Homo sapiens: one gene and its partner. The protein of the gene in region 2 interacts with the protein of the main gene of each other region in a biochemical or structural test. Each region holds a gene or a part of one and is shown on either strand. Other genes may lie near its edges.

Region 1 (7,903 bases), on a different chromosome or scaffold from region 2:
CACACCGGTGTTTTCAAGAGAGAACTTGGTCGTGGAGAACTGGAGAACAGATACTGCCTAAGTTACATTTAGTTTTAGACTAATTTAATACTCCATTTAAGAAACAAACAGAACAGCTGTGCAGTTAGGAAAGTGGAGGGGATTTGAATGAGGAGGAGGCGGGTTAGAGTTAGAACCGTCTTTGCTGAACAAGTAGTGTGTTTGCAGAAAGGGAAGTTGAAGTTACGTTGTCCTAAAATACAGCAAGGAAGAGGAGGTGCTTAATACCACGGAAAAAAGTCTGTGTCATGTTTCTGTGAGGTTAAAAGTAATTTGATAGTGTATGTCATGCTGCTGACATATTCCATGTGTTTGATATCTTCCCAGCAAAATAATCAGCTCTCATTTTCCCTTACAGAGTCAACTGTTCATTTTATTTCAAAATTGGAGCATGTCGTCATGGAGACAGGTGCTCTCGGTTGCACAATAAACCGACGTTTAGCCAGGTTTGTTTGCCTTTTTTTCATGTAAATTATAAAAACTTCATGTTCTTTTCAAAGACAGTTAATTTCTACATATTAAGCAAGTCATTTTTTCTCTCGTAGTTGTATTTTCCATTTGTGTTCATAAGTGTGTTCTTTTATTTAAATAATAGTGAGGCAGGTGATCGACTTCCAGTGGAAGGTCTGAGACCACCACTCCTTGTTTTTATCATTAGAGAAACTTTAAAAATCAGTTTTTGATGTTTGTGTGTTGGCTGTGCCTGATATTTGCTGCCCTGCCATCTTCCCTACCCCCTCTGATAGACATGGGTCCAGAGGGGGTGGCCGTGCCAGCCTTGGGTTAGCCTCCTCCAGGCACCAGTGGACACGGAGTGGGCTTTCTGCTCTTTGCTGTCTCCAGACAGTAGAGGTGATGGAGCCACCTTCCAAGTTAGCGTGATTGTCACCAGGCCCATCATGCTGCTCGAGCTTCTCTGGCTGCGTCCTCACTTTCACATCCCTAGCTGAGGAAACAGCGAGTCGCATCACGTCATGGAAACATGAAAAATTAAGCTGAAAGGTAGAAAATGGGCCGTAAATTGCTCTTAGCGGGTCTGTTTGGTTAATTGAGGAGTGCCTGTTATCTTGGGCTTAGATCCGCTCTGAGTTCAGTTCAATCAAAAGTTGTGAGTTTTGATAGTTTTATTTTTGGTTAGTTGAAGAAAAGGCAAAGGTTGGTACACTATAAAGGATCACTTACGGATTAAAGGGAGAAGGCACCTCTAATCGGAGCAGAAAACTTGTGCCCACGTTGATGAGAACATTTGAAATTTGAAAATCGATGCCCAAGTCTTTCCAGATGGAGGGCTGGGGAACTCCTTCCAACCCACCCTTGAAGTCTAAATGTGCAGCCTCTGAGCTGTTGAGTAGCTATTATGCGTGGTCCCTGGGAGCTGCCAGGCTCTGCCTTTGAGCTCACATCTGTCTGTATACGTTTTCCTGTAAGCATTTAAGAAAATCTACCACTTTGTGTAAGTGAGCTGGGAGAAGGAAACATGGGTTTTTTCCGGTTGAAGCCCATGGACGACCCCACAGCACACAGTGTTTTTAGAAGGGAAGAGGATGATGGCTTTTCCCTCCATTATGCTAATTACCAAGTGGTTAGTATAATAGCAGTCTGTCTTTTGATAGCTCTGAACATGAGTTTCTTTTTACAAATTTCAAAATCTTGGAGAACTAGCTTTACATTTTCTGTGTATTGCAATTGTTTTTTCTTTAATGTTTTGATTTATGAACCGAATCTCCCCTAACTAAACCAGTGGCCATGGATTGTGGTATAACCAAGCATCTTAAGTGACCACCCAGTTCTTTGATTTTGGGGGGTGTCCCAAGTGTTGGGCTGAGAGAAATCAACTGTTCCCTATTCTAAAAGTTTTCTTTAATCTGGCTGGAGGCACTTTCTTTATGTTTTTCTGGATCATAGATTACCTGAGAATGTGAAATGTGAAGTTAATTTAGGCATTCCAGGTCAGTGCTGGGGAGAGCCCATTGGAGCTCGATGGGGTCAGTAGTATGTGTCAGCTTAAGCATCCTAGTTTGATGCGTGGGTTTGTTTTGGTTGGTTTTAGGCAATCCTAGCCACCCTTGGCTTTCCCATTAGACTGCATTGCCTCTTTACGTTAAGCTTCCTTCATTAAATAGCCACTGCCAGAATACCTGAGTGAGACCAACTGAATTTTACTGTTGAATAATTGGGCTCAGTTTAGCTTTTCATCAGGGTTGTCATGGTACGGTCATTTCAGTTCAAAGCTGAGTCAAGTCAGCTTTGGGAAGCCTCCCAGGCCTGAGTTCAGTTGACTCAGGGCTGTACTTGGCGGCTTATGGAAGAAACGGGGCCCTGATGCAGGTCTGAGTGGTTCAGTGTGGACAGTTTGTCAGACCTCCCTCTTAGGTGGGGTGGGCTTCCCAGCTGCACACCTTTGACTGAGGAACTCTTCATACAACCACTCCCCTTTAAACAGAGCTAGAAATGGAGCTGGCTGGTTTTATAAAACCACCACTTACAAAACTGCTTCACGTGGATATTGTTGAGACTAAACATTTATTTTTCTAAATCATGCGAGTGATTGCTTTAGCTTGTAAATCTCTAGCATAATTCAGGGTGGGTTTCTTTATAAGCTGCTTACAGTGATATGGACGTTAAGATTCATGTAATATATTAGCCTACTAACTTAAACATGGTTTGTTTTTTCAGACAACTTGATTTTAAGAAGAACGGTACAGTGTAAGGTTTCAAGTCTGCCTGATCCAGTTTAAAGCACAAGGGCTAAAAGGATTTTTTTTCCTTAAAAGAAGGATCGGAAAAGAGCAAATGTTTTAAGCTATTGTATTATGTAAACAGAGATCCCACCAAGAAAGTGTAAATCAGAGCCGGGTGTCCATGACAGTTGACAGACCTGTTTGGTGTGCCTGTTTTGCTAGGAGACCAGAGAACTTGATGTACTGCAGACAGCTGAGTTACGCATTTGGTTTTGAAAAATTATCTTGTGTGAGGAATATGATTATAACGTGAATTTTTCCACATCTTGGTGTCTGCTAGCTTGAAGTACAAGAAAATATTAGTATTCTACTATTTATCTTGCATTAAAACACTTTAACATTGAAAACGTGGGACTAATCAAAACAATACAGTTTCTTCTTGGTTGCTGGCTGACTTGACCCAAGTCACTGCTCAAACTCTGTTTTCATAATATGATGGTTTTGGTGTACTCTTCAGAAGACAAATGTCTGACTTGCGGGAAAAAAACAAACGTTTAGCCATTTGCAAACAAATTGTCTCTTTGCAATTGTCTAATATATGCACAGCAGCCAGTAGAATTCCCCTTTTTATTTTTTTTTCCCCGCAGACCATCTTGATTCAAAACATCTATCGTAATCCCCAAAACAGTGCACAGACGGCTGACGGCTCACACTGTAAGTCCCACAGTTGGAGAAATTTTTTTAAAACAATGGTGTTAAAGAGCCCACTCTTAATTGAGACAAATAATGTTGGCTTCTGAGCTGCTGACATAGAGCTGTTGCAAACAGGACAAGGTGCTGGAACTCCTTGGCGCACACAGCAAGAACTTGATACTTGGCCACGTTCAGGAGGCTTATCCCTTCTAGGGAGGGTCACTGGCCCGGCCACCTCCATTGATTGACATTTGTCATGAGAGCAGGTCCGTCCATGTGAAACGGATTTCAACATTTTGAGCCATTCATTGGTCTTTACAGTGACTGAACCCCTGGCCTTTATTAAGTTCTTTGTGTAAAATTAAAACTCTTAGGAATATTAAGGAATCAATAAGGTAAGTTGCCCAGTAAGTGTGGGTTTTATTTCACCATTATAATTTTTCCTCCAGGAAGTGGAGATTTCATGATATGTAACAATTGTATTTCTCTAATACAGTAATTTTTTCCATCAGTTTATGTAAGCATTATTCTTTCCGAGTTCATTAAAAATTTTCTGCCACATCTAAGAACATTTTGGTGCTAGCCTGGCAAACTATTTGTGCTTTTACCTGAATTGGAATTTTGAAAAGGAGAGTTTTCACGTTCTGTAAGCAGAAGTACAAGATGGGCATATCATGAGACCTCCGTTACACCGCAGTGTTAGGGATTCAAGGCAGCCGCCAACTGAGAAAACGCCTCTGCTTCTCCAGAAAATAACTTGCTCTCTTTTCAGCACTGAATCTCAACTGAAGCACTTGCCAGAGGCAGCCGGTTAAGTGTTTACCTTTAATTTTCCATAATATAAAGTTGTTGCGTTTTGTATTTCAGACCATTGCCCTCTTGAACATTTACCGTAACCCTCAAAACTCTTCCCAGTCTGCTGACGGTTTGCGCTGTAAGTTCATACAAGTTCCTTCCCCGGTTCCCTGGGCTTGCGTGTCAGAGCTCAGTGTCCACTCCATCTGGTCTGCCGTGCTAGTGTCAAGGACCGCGTTTCACTAGAGGTGGCAAGGAGCTTTCGTCCCACTGACCCCATGGAAACCTCTTTTGGAGATTTGAACTCCCACCGTGTGTTAAAAGGGAAAAAGTAACTGGAAAGGGTGCCCTTTAAAACAGTCTAGAGCTGGGCCGGGCGCGGTGGCTCACGCCTGTAATCCCAGCACTTTGGGAGGCCGAGGCGGGTGGATCATGAGGTCAGGAGTTCAAGACCAATCTGGCCAACATGGTGAAACCCCATCTCTACTAAAGATACAAAAATTAGCTGGGCGTGGTGGCAGATGCCTGCAATCCCAGCTTCTAGGGAGGCTGAGGCAGAGAATCGCTTGAACCCGGGAGGCGGAGGTTGCAGTGAACTGAGATCGTGCCGCTGCACTCCAGCCTGGGCGACAGAGTGAGACTCCGTCTCCAAAAAAAAAAAAAAAAACAGTCTGGAGCTGCTGCTGCCCCTTCTTCCTTTACTTTGGCCGTCATCCTAGAGGGAATGTACTGGAATTAAACGTCGAGTCATATTCTTCCCTCTTAGAGCAACAAAATTTGAATGTTTCTCTCACTTTCTGGAATTTTTAAAAAGCAAACTTTTTAAGTTATTTTTTCAGATTTTATTTCTCATTAGCCTTTTTTCCTTGAACTCCATTTTGGAGTGCACCCTGTAGTTGTAAGAGCATTGTGCTGAGAGCGTTCCCCAAATGAGGGTCTGCAGCTTGCACTGACCCCTGAGTTCCTCACCCACCAGCCCCGTGCCGACCCGTCTAACCCGTGTGGGGGTGCTCCACTCAAATAGGCCCTTGGCAGAAAAGATTGTCCGTTCTGTCCACACACTGCCTGGATACAGTCTCCAGCTCTAGGAGATGGAATTGGTTTGCTCCATTTAGAAATAGATCAAAACTGGGCATTCAGTAGATGGTACCAATATCTTCCTGTACTGGGAAATACTAAATTTAGATTGTGAATATTTACCTAATGATAATTTTTAGAGAAGGAGATATCATAGATGAGTATGATTGGGAAGTTCAGAAAACTAAAATTTGATTTTTACAGCCATCCAACTATAGAATCATTAGAATTTAGTCATTTATGGATAAATTAAAATGAACACCTGGACTCTTGTTAAAATCAGAAAGTCCAAACCAAAGATAGGCACTTCCCATTCACCATTCTGTTTTAAAGCAGTAAAAATTGAGGTGCCCTTGGATATCCACAAGCCTAAATTGAGTACACCCTTGAACCAGAGCCCCTCAGTTAATGGGGTGACCGACATGGGGTAGCTGATCCCAGGGGGCATTCCCCTCTCGAGCTGGCCCTGCACTGGGTGGCCTGGGGATTGTGCTTCCTTGCACAGTGGTGCACATTTCTATGTGTGGATGAGATTTTCTTGTCAACTTTTCCTGCCAAGACACTAAATGCTTTTCAGTGCTAATACTGACCTGATAGTAGAGATTTCTTTCCCTGAGTCGGATGGTAGCAGGATTTACTTGGTAACCCTTGGTTTAAAATACCTGTTTTTTTGTTTGTTTGTTTTCTTTTGTTTTTTAAGGAAATAAGATCAATAGGCGGAGGGAAATTGTTTCTATATGCACTTATTAAATAATTTTTGTTAACAACCCTGCCCTGGGATAAAAGTGAATGGAAGTACATGACTGAGTAACAGTAATTAATTCTTTGCCCTGATCGTTTATTTGGGGACTGTATATGCTTTCTTGACTGACAATAGAATGTTGTATTAGTTTTCATTGTGTCTTTATTTGCAGTTCACAGCACTTTTGTTTTGCATATGCTACAAACTAAAAGTTTAGCAATTACGTTATATTCCAATTCTGGAGTCCAGATTGTACAAATTAGATGAAATTCTAATTCGTCATTTTAGGAAGAAATCAATTACCTAAAATTACTGGCTCTTTTCAACATACCCTTTAGTATGTAAAAAAATAAGCTTCAAATGCGTGGGTTAAAGTTAACTATCAATCCCAGTTTAAGAATGATATTTCTGTAAGAAAACTGCTTTATTTTCCAAGTTGTAGTATTTAACATAGGCTGAGTCACAAATAAGTTTTTAATTGTATCTTAATGCAGTTGTCTCTGCCTTTCAAGTCACTTTGATTGAAACATTTTAAGCAGAACAAATATAGCCAATAATTTAAAATAATCACCCCAAAACCATTTCTCAAACCTGCTAAAACTTTGAGCATGTGAATAATTTTCTCCTCTTCACATTCTTCTTATGTGGGAAGGAAGTGAATTTGAAATATTAAAATCTGCCCTTTGGAATAGGCTACTTTGGCCGTTTATAACTTGATTTCTACTCGGGGAGGAAGGTACATTCCCAATAGCTTTCCAATTGGGATATCCTGTGATATGATTGGCAGGCTGTCCGAGTAGTTACACTTAATAAAATTTGGGTTCGAAAGCAGATTCCTGGAAGTTCAAAAATAACTAAAACAGCCCCGGATAGGTTAGAAAGTGAACTTAAATCATTCTCAGAATTAGAAAATAAGAAGTTATTTTTTATCTTCAAAGATAAAAAGGGGGCCGGGCACGGTGGCTCACGCCTGTAATCCCAGCACTTTGGAAAGCCGAGGCAAGTGGATCACGAGGTCGAGAGATTGAGACCATCCTGGCCAACATGGTGGAACCCCGTCTCTACTAAAACTACAAAAATTAGCCAAGATCACGCCATTGCACTCCAGCCTGGAGACAGTGAGACGCCGTCTCAAAAAAAAAAAAAAAAAAGATAAAAAGAGTTTTGAGCAAGCTCAAAGACCCGTGTGCCAGCAGTCAGATGCCCACGTTGGGTGCACAGGCTAAGGCAGCCGGCCCAATCTGGAAACCAGTCAGGCTTTTGCCAGCCCCTAATCTAGCTGATTGGAACATGTTTGTTGATACACCAGCTCTGTGATTTCTCAGGTTTAGAGAACTCTAGAATTTGATAGAGTGGGCCGGGGGCAGTGGCTCATGCCTGTAATCTCAGCACTTTGGGAGGCTGAGGTAAGCAGATCACGTGAGGTCAGGAGGTTGAGACCAGCCTGGCCAACATGGTGAAACCCCGTCTCTACTAAAAATACAAAAATTAGCCAGGCATGGTGGTGCGCGCCTGTAGTCCCACCTACTTGGGAGGCTGAGGAAGGAGAATTGCTTGAACCTAGGAAGTGGAGGTTGCAGTGAGCCAAGATCACGCCACTGCACTCCAGCCTGGAGTGGACAGAGACTCCATCTCAAAAGAAAAAAAAATTAATTAAATTTGATAGAATGATGATGGGGATAGAGTGTAAATTTGCCAAATTTACCCACGCAACAGACATGATTTTACCTAATACATGTGAATTATGAAGAATAAACTGATGAAAATAGTTTGGGAATATAAAACTTAAGAATACTTGCGCCGGGCACGGCGGCTCACACCTGTAATCCCAGCACTTTGGGAGGCCGAGGCAGGTGGATCACGAGGTCAGGAGTTC
Region 2 (8,598 bases):
CTTCATCCAAACTAAGCATAAAAATAGTTTCCTCTGGGTCTCTGGGTCTTCCTTTGTCAACGTTCCCATGTCACATAAAACTTTGATTAAATACATTTGTTATGCTTTTTTCTTGTTGACCTATTTTTTGTTATAGGAGTATCTGCTGTGACTCCTATGATAGGTAAGGAAAGATACCTTTTCACCTTTATGGTACTCAGATTTTGGAGACATTGGGGGAAAAACAGCAGTAGAAAATTAAGTAAGTGAAAAACAAAGGCTCTTATTAACTACTTAAAAGTTAACAATAGTATAGAAAGCAAAATAAATCAGAGTACACTACCTGGCTCAAAGTGAGTAATAATTCATAGTTATATTGCTGTTTTTTTTTTGTTTGTTTGTTTTTGAGACAGGATATCACTCTGTTGCCCAGGCTGGAGTCCTGGAGTGCAGCCATGGCTTACTGCAGCCTCAACCTCCCAGGCTCAAGCAGATCTTCCCACTTCAGCCTCCCAAGTAGCTGGAACCACAGGCATGTACCACCATGCCTGGTTAATTTCTTTTTTCCTTCTTTCTTGCAGAGATAAGGTCTATAAATGCTGCCCAGGCTGGTCTAGAACTTCTGGCCTCAAGCGATCTTCCCACCTCTACCTCCCAAAATGCTGGGATTATAGGCGTGAGCCACAGAGCCCAGCCTAGTTATAATAATGTTAATACTAAGCATTCGTTTAGCAAAAATTGCTATGATGGAACTATACTGGAAGATTGGAAACAAGAAGGGTAGGTAAAGAACTAAATCCTTACTGTGACAAGAAGTTAAGAGGTATGTCTAAGATGTTGAATTGATGTAAACAGTATAAATATACAATTTAGGAATATACAGTTGGTGGGCGCAGCGGCTCACGCCTATAATCCCAGCACTTTGGGAGGCTGAGGTGGGCAGACCACTATGTCAAGAGATCGAGACCATCCTGGCCAACATGGTGAAGCCCCATCTCTACTAAAAATATAAAAATTAGCTGGGCATGGTGATGCACACCTGTAGTCCCAGGTACTTGGGAGGCAGAGACAGGAGAATCGCTTGAACCCAGGAAGTGGAGGCTGCAGTGAGCCAAGATTGCACCACTGCACTCCAGCCTGGGTGACAGAGCGAGACTCCATCTCAAAAAAAAAAAACAAAAACCAAACAGTTAAATCCCAGAAGTAAAACCTAAAAGTTTACACAGAGAAGCCTGGTTTGGGAGGGGGAAGAGGGACACAGGGAATATGAGTGGTTACTGAGGAGTTGGGCAGCCTATTGCTATTTTTTGGTAGCACTTTTAGTACTATTTGAATTTTAAAACTACATATTACTGTGGTATAAATACAATTTAAAGCTCAAACAAGATTCTGAACTGGCCAAAGCAAATGTCTCAACGGCTCATTCAGTTTTAAATCTCAGAAACTGGAAAAATCCCACCAGTCAATCAGACACCTGGGTTCAGCTCTAGATTTGCTGGTTAACTAACTGGTCAATGTATGCTTGATCACATGACTTAACCACTGTTCCTCCATTTTTTCATCTGTAAAAGTAGGTTATAATCTCTCTCATCTGTGAAAAAGCTCTCTGAGCTACAAATAAGTGGAATTAACCATCCTCTAGCATTCTATAGCTAAATATATTGAGGGCTGGGCAGGGCCAGGCATTCTGATGCTTACGCTAGGGGAAGATCTTTGAACACCTGACTTCCCTGGGAGACCAAGAGCGCCACACAGTGACTTGAAAGGGCCAGGACTGCCCTGTAACATGGATGCCCACAATGCAGGGTCTCTATCCTGCATCCCCTGCCCTGCTAAGGGGAAAAGTCGTTCAGAGCGGGCCACACTGGAAAAAGAGCAGGCCAGGTCCCAACATAGGAATTTATCTCACATCAAACCTCCCAGAAGGTTAATTATAAAAAGGATTTTAATTCTTTGAGGAACTTTTCTTATATGAATTATGTTTTTTAAAAGTAGACAAATTAAACTCTACTTGAGCAAAGAACTGTTTTCAAAGAGGGCACCCCCATAACCAGAATAGGTCCAGAGCAATTCTCAGGCTGCCACCTGGTGGGATAACATTTATGGACAGGAAAAGGAAAGTGATGTACAGAAAAGCAAATGAGGTAGAGAAATAGCTGGATTCCATACAGCCTGGCGTTTGCCTTCTTTGAACAGGGTTTCAAAGGCTGACCACCTGTGACGGCCTGAAAATCAGCTGCTGTGATTGTCTGAGACTCAGGTACTTATAACAGTAGGTTACAGTCTGTTTACACATCTACTTAGGTTACAGTTCACTAAGTACAGAGAAACTTTTAGGCTAAACTTAAAATATTCAAGGAGGCAGCGTTAGGCTATACTTAACACCTACTTAGCACAGGTAACTAGAAGTGGCTAAAACAGAAACGAATTCTTGAATAACTGAGTGAATGCCACACTTAGAAAAGGTTGTTTTATGCAGCTAATTATAGAATCACGGACAAGAACTGAAAGAGTTGCTGCCTGAACTTTCCACTCGAGGTCTGTGTTAGAATTTAGGAAACGCCACCCTGATAAATGACTGCAAAAGACAAGAATGCACCATCCCCAAACATGCCACCCTGGCATATTGATGACTTTGAGCTATAAGTAACAGAACCAAACAACACAGGATAACTTATTCAGCTACCCCTCAACTGCCTAAAATAAAGTATGACTGCTTTTTTTCCTTTTGTTCTTATTATTTTTCGACTCGCCTGTTGTAAACAGAAATTTACACCTATAAAGGAAATTTTCTGTAGTAAATGTATCTGTATCAGGAAGACAGCTGCTTGGGGGCAACTTTTATCGCCTGAGCGCCTCATCGGGATAACAAAGCAACCTTTATTCACCATACATTTCCCCCATCACCCTTCCAAAAGGTCTCCACCACGCCCCAAAAGGCCCACGCCCCTATTCCCTGGCCCTTCTTTGTCTCCCACTTTTGTGGCCCTCTAGTGCACGGGTACATAATTAAAAGTTTTTCTCCTGTTAATCTGTCTTATGACAATTTAATTTGTGGCCCAGCTTAAGAACTTAGAAGGGTAGAGGGAAACCATATTTCCTTCCCCTACATTTGAATCTTCTTTACACCACACTCTCCCGGGTCATTTGGACTCTCCTGGAACCCCCTGGAGCTAGGGAAGCGCAGGGCCTCCCAAGTCAGATTCTGCTTGGTGCCGAGCGGCAGTTGGCTCCCTGAACGCCCCGCCAGGAGGATGGACTTCAAGTCCTTGACCGCGGCGCCCGACATCGGTCGCCCGCACCAGGCTCCTGCCGGGCCCAGCCCCCCTGCCTGCTCGCGGGGGCTCGGAGGACCCGGCCTAGCGCCCACCGCGGCGTCCCGCGCCCCGGGCCCCTGGCTTCAGAAGACTGGCCGCGCGCGGACGGCAGCTCGGGACTCACAAGGACTCCAGGTGCTTGAGCTGCTGCAGCTGCTGCGCGTCGTGTCGCCGCCGCTTCTGCTCCCGACGTCGCTGCAGCTCCTGCTCCGGCGGCTCACGCGGCCGCCGCGCGCCCGCAGCCCCCACGTCCTCGCGCCCAGGCCGGGACGACATGTCAGCCCCCGCAGCGCCGCTCGGGCAACCCCCGCGGCGCGGCTCCGGCGGCGGCGGCGGCGGCGGCGGCAGCCAAGAGAGCACTTCCTCCGCGCGGCGGTCGCGGGGCTTCGCAGCGCCCCCTCCCGCCGCCGCCCCGCAACTCACCCCGGCGGCCCCGAAGTCTCAGCCTCGGCCACCCGATCCCCGCCTCCCCGCGTCGGGCCCCAAGTCAGGGGCTCCGGGTCTCGGGCCCAGCCGCCAGGCGGGCTGCTGCGGGTGGGTGGGGAGCGCCGCCTAGCTGGAGCCGAAGCGGGGCGAGGCGCTAGTTGGGAGCCTGGAGGTTCCCGCCCGGCCACACCCACCTCAGGTATACTAGCAACAGTCACATAGGGATGAGCAGATGAAATGTATTCATAAAAAAATGTTCAAATTAGCCAGGCGTGGTGGCGGGCGCCAGTAGTCCCAGCTACTTGGGTGGCTGAGGCAGGAGAATTGCTTGAACCCAGGAGGCAGAGGTTGCAGTGAGCCGAGATGGTGCCCCTGCACTCCAGTCTGGGCGAAAAAGCGAGATTGTCTCTCAGAAAAAAAAAAAAAAAAGTGTTCAAAAAGTGAAATGTATAAACATATAATTATGTTCGGTAATAGTGTGCACCCAGCTTTATAACTGCGGTCATCTGATATACCATGAGAGACAACCTAACTCTTTTGACAGGATGGGTCACCATGACGTCACCACTGTGCCAGTCACCCGAGGAGCCAAGATCCTGAGAAATTTCATCTTTCACAAATGCAGATGTACAGAAAAGACACTTATTTATTTATCGAGGAAATTTCTACATTTTTGCATATATGTAGAATGCTTACACAGTCACCATTGTAATAATGAGCTTTGATTGAGTCATATTTGCAAAAAATGCATAAAACAAATTTGAACTCTCTAAAAGTCTTTATATAGTTGATGCCTCCAGTATTAGAAATGATGTTAAGATGTAATACATAGCATAGTGAATTGTAAAACATAATGCTGACAATTTACAATAATGAAAAAGCTAAAAGAGAAAATAGAAAAACGAAAGCAAACTAAAAAGAAAATTCAACATAGAAAAAGTGTATTGCAGGGATAGATTATGGGCAATTGCATGGCGATTGTCCACATGAACTGCCCAACTTTTATGATGATTAACATATTTTGAAGTCTTGCATCATGATGAATAGCTTTTTTTTTTTTCTTTTAGGACATGGCTCTCCTCGATGATACAGTCTCATTAATTTTCTATGTGATACTGCTCTTTCCAAAATTCTTTTTAACTTTTTAAAGTTTTTTATTTTGTAGAGACGGGGTCTCGCTATGCTGCTTAGGCTGGCCTTGAACTCCTGGCCTCAAGCAATCCTCCTGCCATAGCCTCCCAAAACACTGGGATTACAGGTGGGAATCACTGCACCTGACTATGAAATTATTTTGTGATTTGATATTCTCTGACTTCTCTTTGTGCTTTCTTTCTGTTGTACCCTCCTGTCCATGAACCCCTCTGTTTTTCATTTTATTCTTCTGCCCCCTCCTAAGACACCAGAGATTCATTCTTGAGGCCAGTCAAGCAGCCTTGGTGTTGGCCCACTGGTGGGGCAGCTGCAGTTGGTCCTTAGTCTGTGCTACTGGACAGGTTTTAAACCTTTCAGAATGGAGCAACTAAAAAAAGAATAGATTTTCTCCTGCTTGTATTGATCACCCTTCACAGTGTAATCTTGACACCATTGTTTTGCTGCTAAGGTGTATTTTTACAAGCTCTTATCTTACCAGTGACCTTTCCCCACTGGGGAGATGAGGAGAGGAAAAAAGTAGGAGAAGGGAAAGATCACATGGCTAGATTAGAGAGTACAATGCAAAATCTTTCTTTTTTTCCTACCCAAAATACAAGTCTTCAAGGAACTCTCATGGTGAAGTGGACCCTCAGGCGTGCATGTCTATGGTCTTCTGCAGCGCAGTAGAAACATGAGAATCCCTTTGGTCATGCACTAAAAACAGCTGTTAAAATTACTTCTAGGGCCAGGCATGGTGGCTTGTGCCTGTTGTCCTAGGTATTTGTGGAGCTTAGGTGGGAGGATTGCATGAACCCAGGAGGTGGAGGCTACAGTGAGCCATGATCGTGTCACTGCACTCCAGCCTGAGTGACAGAGTGAGCCCCTGTCTCAAAAAAAGAAAAATTATTTCTATCCATCAATAGTTGCTAACCAGTAGGATCGGAGGGAAAATTGCAACGTGCTTTACTTTAGGCTTGCAGGTACGAAAGACTGAGGGAGGAAGGTCAGACACCAAACTTAATTGGTATTCTGGGGCAAATATTTGGCAACTGAGTTGACATTTCTCCTTCTCTTCCTTGCTACCAGCTTTGATTTTGTTCAGGAATCATACAGGAAGCTGGTTAGAGAGTGGAGGCCTCTTCATGCCTCTCTAGAGGTGAGTCTTGACTTGTCTTAAGCCAGTCATTAGTAATTTTGTTCTCGTTTCCACTGATTGTTTTAGCAATGGACCTGTGGTGCAATTTTAGCCAATGAGGTATGAGGAGAGGTCGGATGGAGGTGGCTTTCAGGGTAAGGTTGTCTTTGCTCTTAATAAATGATGCTTGGGAGTGTCAAAGATCCCCTTTCTGCCTCCAGATGTTGTTGCCTGCAACCCCCAGAGGATGGCAGAGGACAGAAGGAGACCCCTGGGTCCTTGGGGATGTGATAGAGACATTTGATCAACCAGTCCTGGTGTTGCTACCTATCCATACTTCTCATTCTGGGAGATAGTACATTTCTTTATTATTGAAGTGATTTTGAGTTGGGTCTTCTATTACTCACAGATAAATATGATTCTTTACATTTATATAGTGCCATGCAGATCTCCCCCTGCCCCCATATGTTCTCCCAGTTGATTTTACAGAAACCCTATGGGGGCATGCAAGACAATGTAAGATAAGGAAATTGAGGCTCAGAAGGAGAGTGTGGCCCTGCAACCAAAATGGTCTGATTTCTAGTCCAGAGTTTTTCATCAACCCTCATGAATTTAGGTGTGTGGGAATAGTGGGAGTGGGAGAATCTCTTGGAAACCCTTGGAGAATCTCTTGGTAAAGAAGAGGATAGGAAGCTGCTGGAAACAAATTTCCCTGATGTCCCATTGGCCTCAAATCGGCTCAGATGGACTTTTGGGGATGTTTTTTCATTCAATTTATTTATTTAATAATTAAAAACAATACAGATGGGGCCCTGCTATGTTGATGGGGGTGAGGAGGTATTTTTCCTCAGCTGGCCTTTTCCCTCCCCTCCCCTCCCCTTCCCTTCATTTTTTTGAGACAGGGTCTCACTCTATTGGCCAGGCTGGAGTGCAGTGGTACGATCTCTGCTCACTGCAACCTCCGCCTCCCAGGTTCAAGGGACTCTCGTGTCTCAGCCTTTCAGGTAGCTGGGACCACAGGCGTGCGCCACCACGCTGGGCTAATTTTTGTATTTTTAGCAGAGACGGGGTTTCACCATGTTGGCCAGGCTAGTCTCGAACTCCTGACCTCAACTGATCTGACTAAGGCTGGTCATTTCTTTAGCCATCCTGTGTGTGCCAAGCAAAAGTTAACAACTGGCATAGCTTAGCCTCCAGGGTTTACTGTTCTCAAAACCACAGTAGTTTTCTGATTCACAAAACTGCCTTTATTTCAGACTCAATGAAAGGTGGAAACCTTTTTTTTAGGGCCTGGCCTTAGTGGATTACGTTGGATTTTACCATTAACACTTGAGGTTCCTGTACTGTCTGAGGGGCATTTGACAGAACCTGGTTTACTGACTTTGATTCAGACCAGTCCTTTTTTCAGATCCCTTTCTCCCCGCTCTTCCATGCTGCTTCCCATGCCCACCTTGGCCTCAGATTTTGCTGTTCCTCTCATTGTGTCCTTCTGTCTGATTTTACCACATTTTCTGGTCCCTGCCTCTGCATTCTCTCACTGATTGTTATCTTGTTTTTCTCTCCCTGCCATCTTTCTCTCTCATTTCCCCTCTTTTTCTTATTCCGATAACCTTTCATTCCTTCTAGTCCCTGTCTCACGTTTGTGTGAAAGTTAGTTATACAAATTGGGTAATTTTTGTCATACTCAAGTAAAAGAGAATCAAGGGGTCAGGGGGGAAAAGCACTTGTGGTCACAGGACCTGCTCCAAGAATTAAATTTTCCAGAAGCCCAGCCGCTAAAATGGACTGCTGTAACTCTAAGATCAGTTTTACCTGGTAGCTGCTGAAACGGCCTGCCCTGGCTCTGCGACTGGTTTTAACTGCTGCAGTCACTCGTCTATCAGAGCTTGCCGGCTCCCAAAAGCTTGTTTAGTGCCAATGAGCTTCCTTCCTTCCTTCCTTCCTGCCTCCCTCCTTCTCTCCCTCTCTCCCTCCCTTTCTCTCTCCTTTCTTTCCTTCCTTTCCTTTTTTTGACAGAGTCTCACTCTGTCACCAGGCTGGAGTGCAGTGGCGCAATCTTGGCTCACTGCAACCTCTGCCTCTTGGGTTAAAGTGATTCTCTTGCCCCAGCCTCCCGAGTAGCTGGGACTACAGGCGCGTGTCACCATGCCCAGCTAATTTTTGTGTTTTTTGTAGAGATGGGGTTTTACCATGTTGGCCAGGCTGGTCTTGAACTCCTGACCTCGTGATCCGCCTGCCTCAGGCTCCCAAAGTGCTGGGATTACAGATGTGAGCCACCACGCCCGGCCTGAGATTTCTTTCAAAACACTACATAACATTTGTCTTTCTTTCTTATTTATTTATTTTTTAATTATTTATTTATTTTTATTTTTTTGAGATGGAGTCTTGCTCTGTTGCCCAGGCTGGAGTGCAGTGGCGCAATCTCGGCTCACTGCAAGCTCTGCCTCCCAGGTTCACGCCATTCTCCTGCCTCAGCCTCCCGAGTAGCTGGGACTACAGGCGACCCGCTACCAAGCCCGGCTCATTTTCTGTGTTTTTAGTAGGGACGGGGTTTCACCGTATTAGCCAGGGTGGTCTGGATCTCCTGACCTCGTGATCTGCCCGCCTCAG

The links.
Region 1: the proteins of RP9 (region 2) and U2AF1 form a complex in vitro, tested with the Homo sapiens proteins (one study listed by BioGRID).

Annotation. Positions count from the first base shown.
Region 1 is NC_000021.9:43,096,897-43,104,799, reverse strand, and holds part of U2AF1 (splicing factor U2AF 35 kDa subunit), read left to right. Parts: intron 1-397; coding exon 398-485; intron 486-3,367; coding exon of another isoform or gene 3,368-3,434; intron 3,435-4,280; coding exon 4,281-4,347; intron 4,348-7,903. UniProt on the Homo sapiens protein: Plays a critical role in both constitutive and enhancer-dependent splicing by mediating protein-protein interactions and protein-RNA interactions required for accurate 3'-splice site selection. Recruits U2 snRNP to the branch point.
Region 2 is NC_000007.14:33,105,801-33,114,398, forward strand, and holds the start of RP9 (retinitis pigmentosa 9 protein), read right to left. Parts: upstream 3,605-8,598; 5' UTR 3,573-3,604; coding exon 3,421-3,572; intron 1-3,420. UniProt on the Homo sapiens protein: Is thought to be a target protein for the PIM1 kinase. May play some roles in B-cell proliferation in association with PIM1.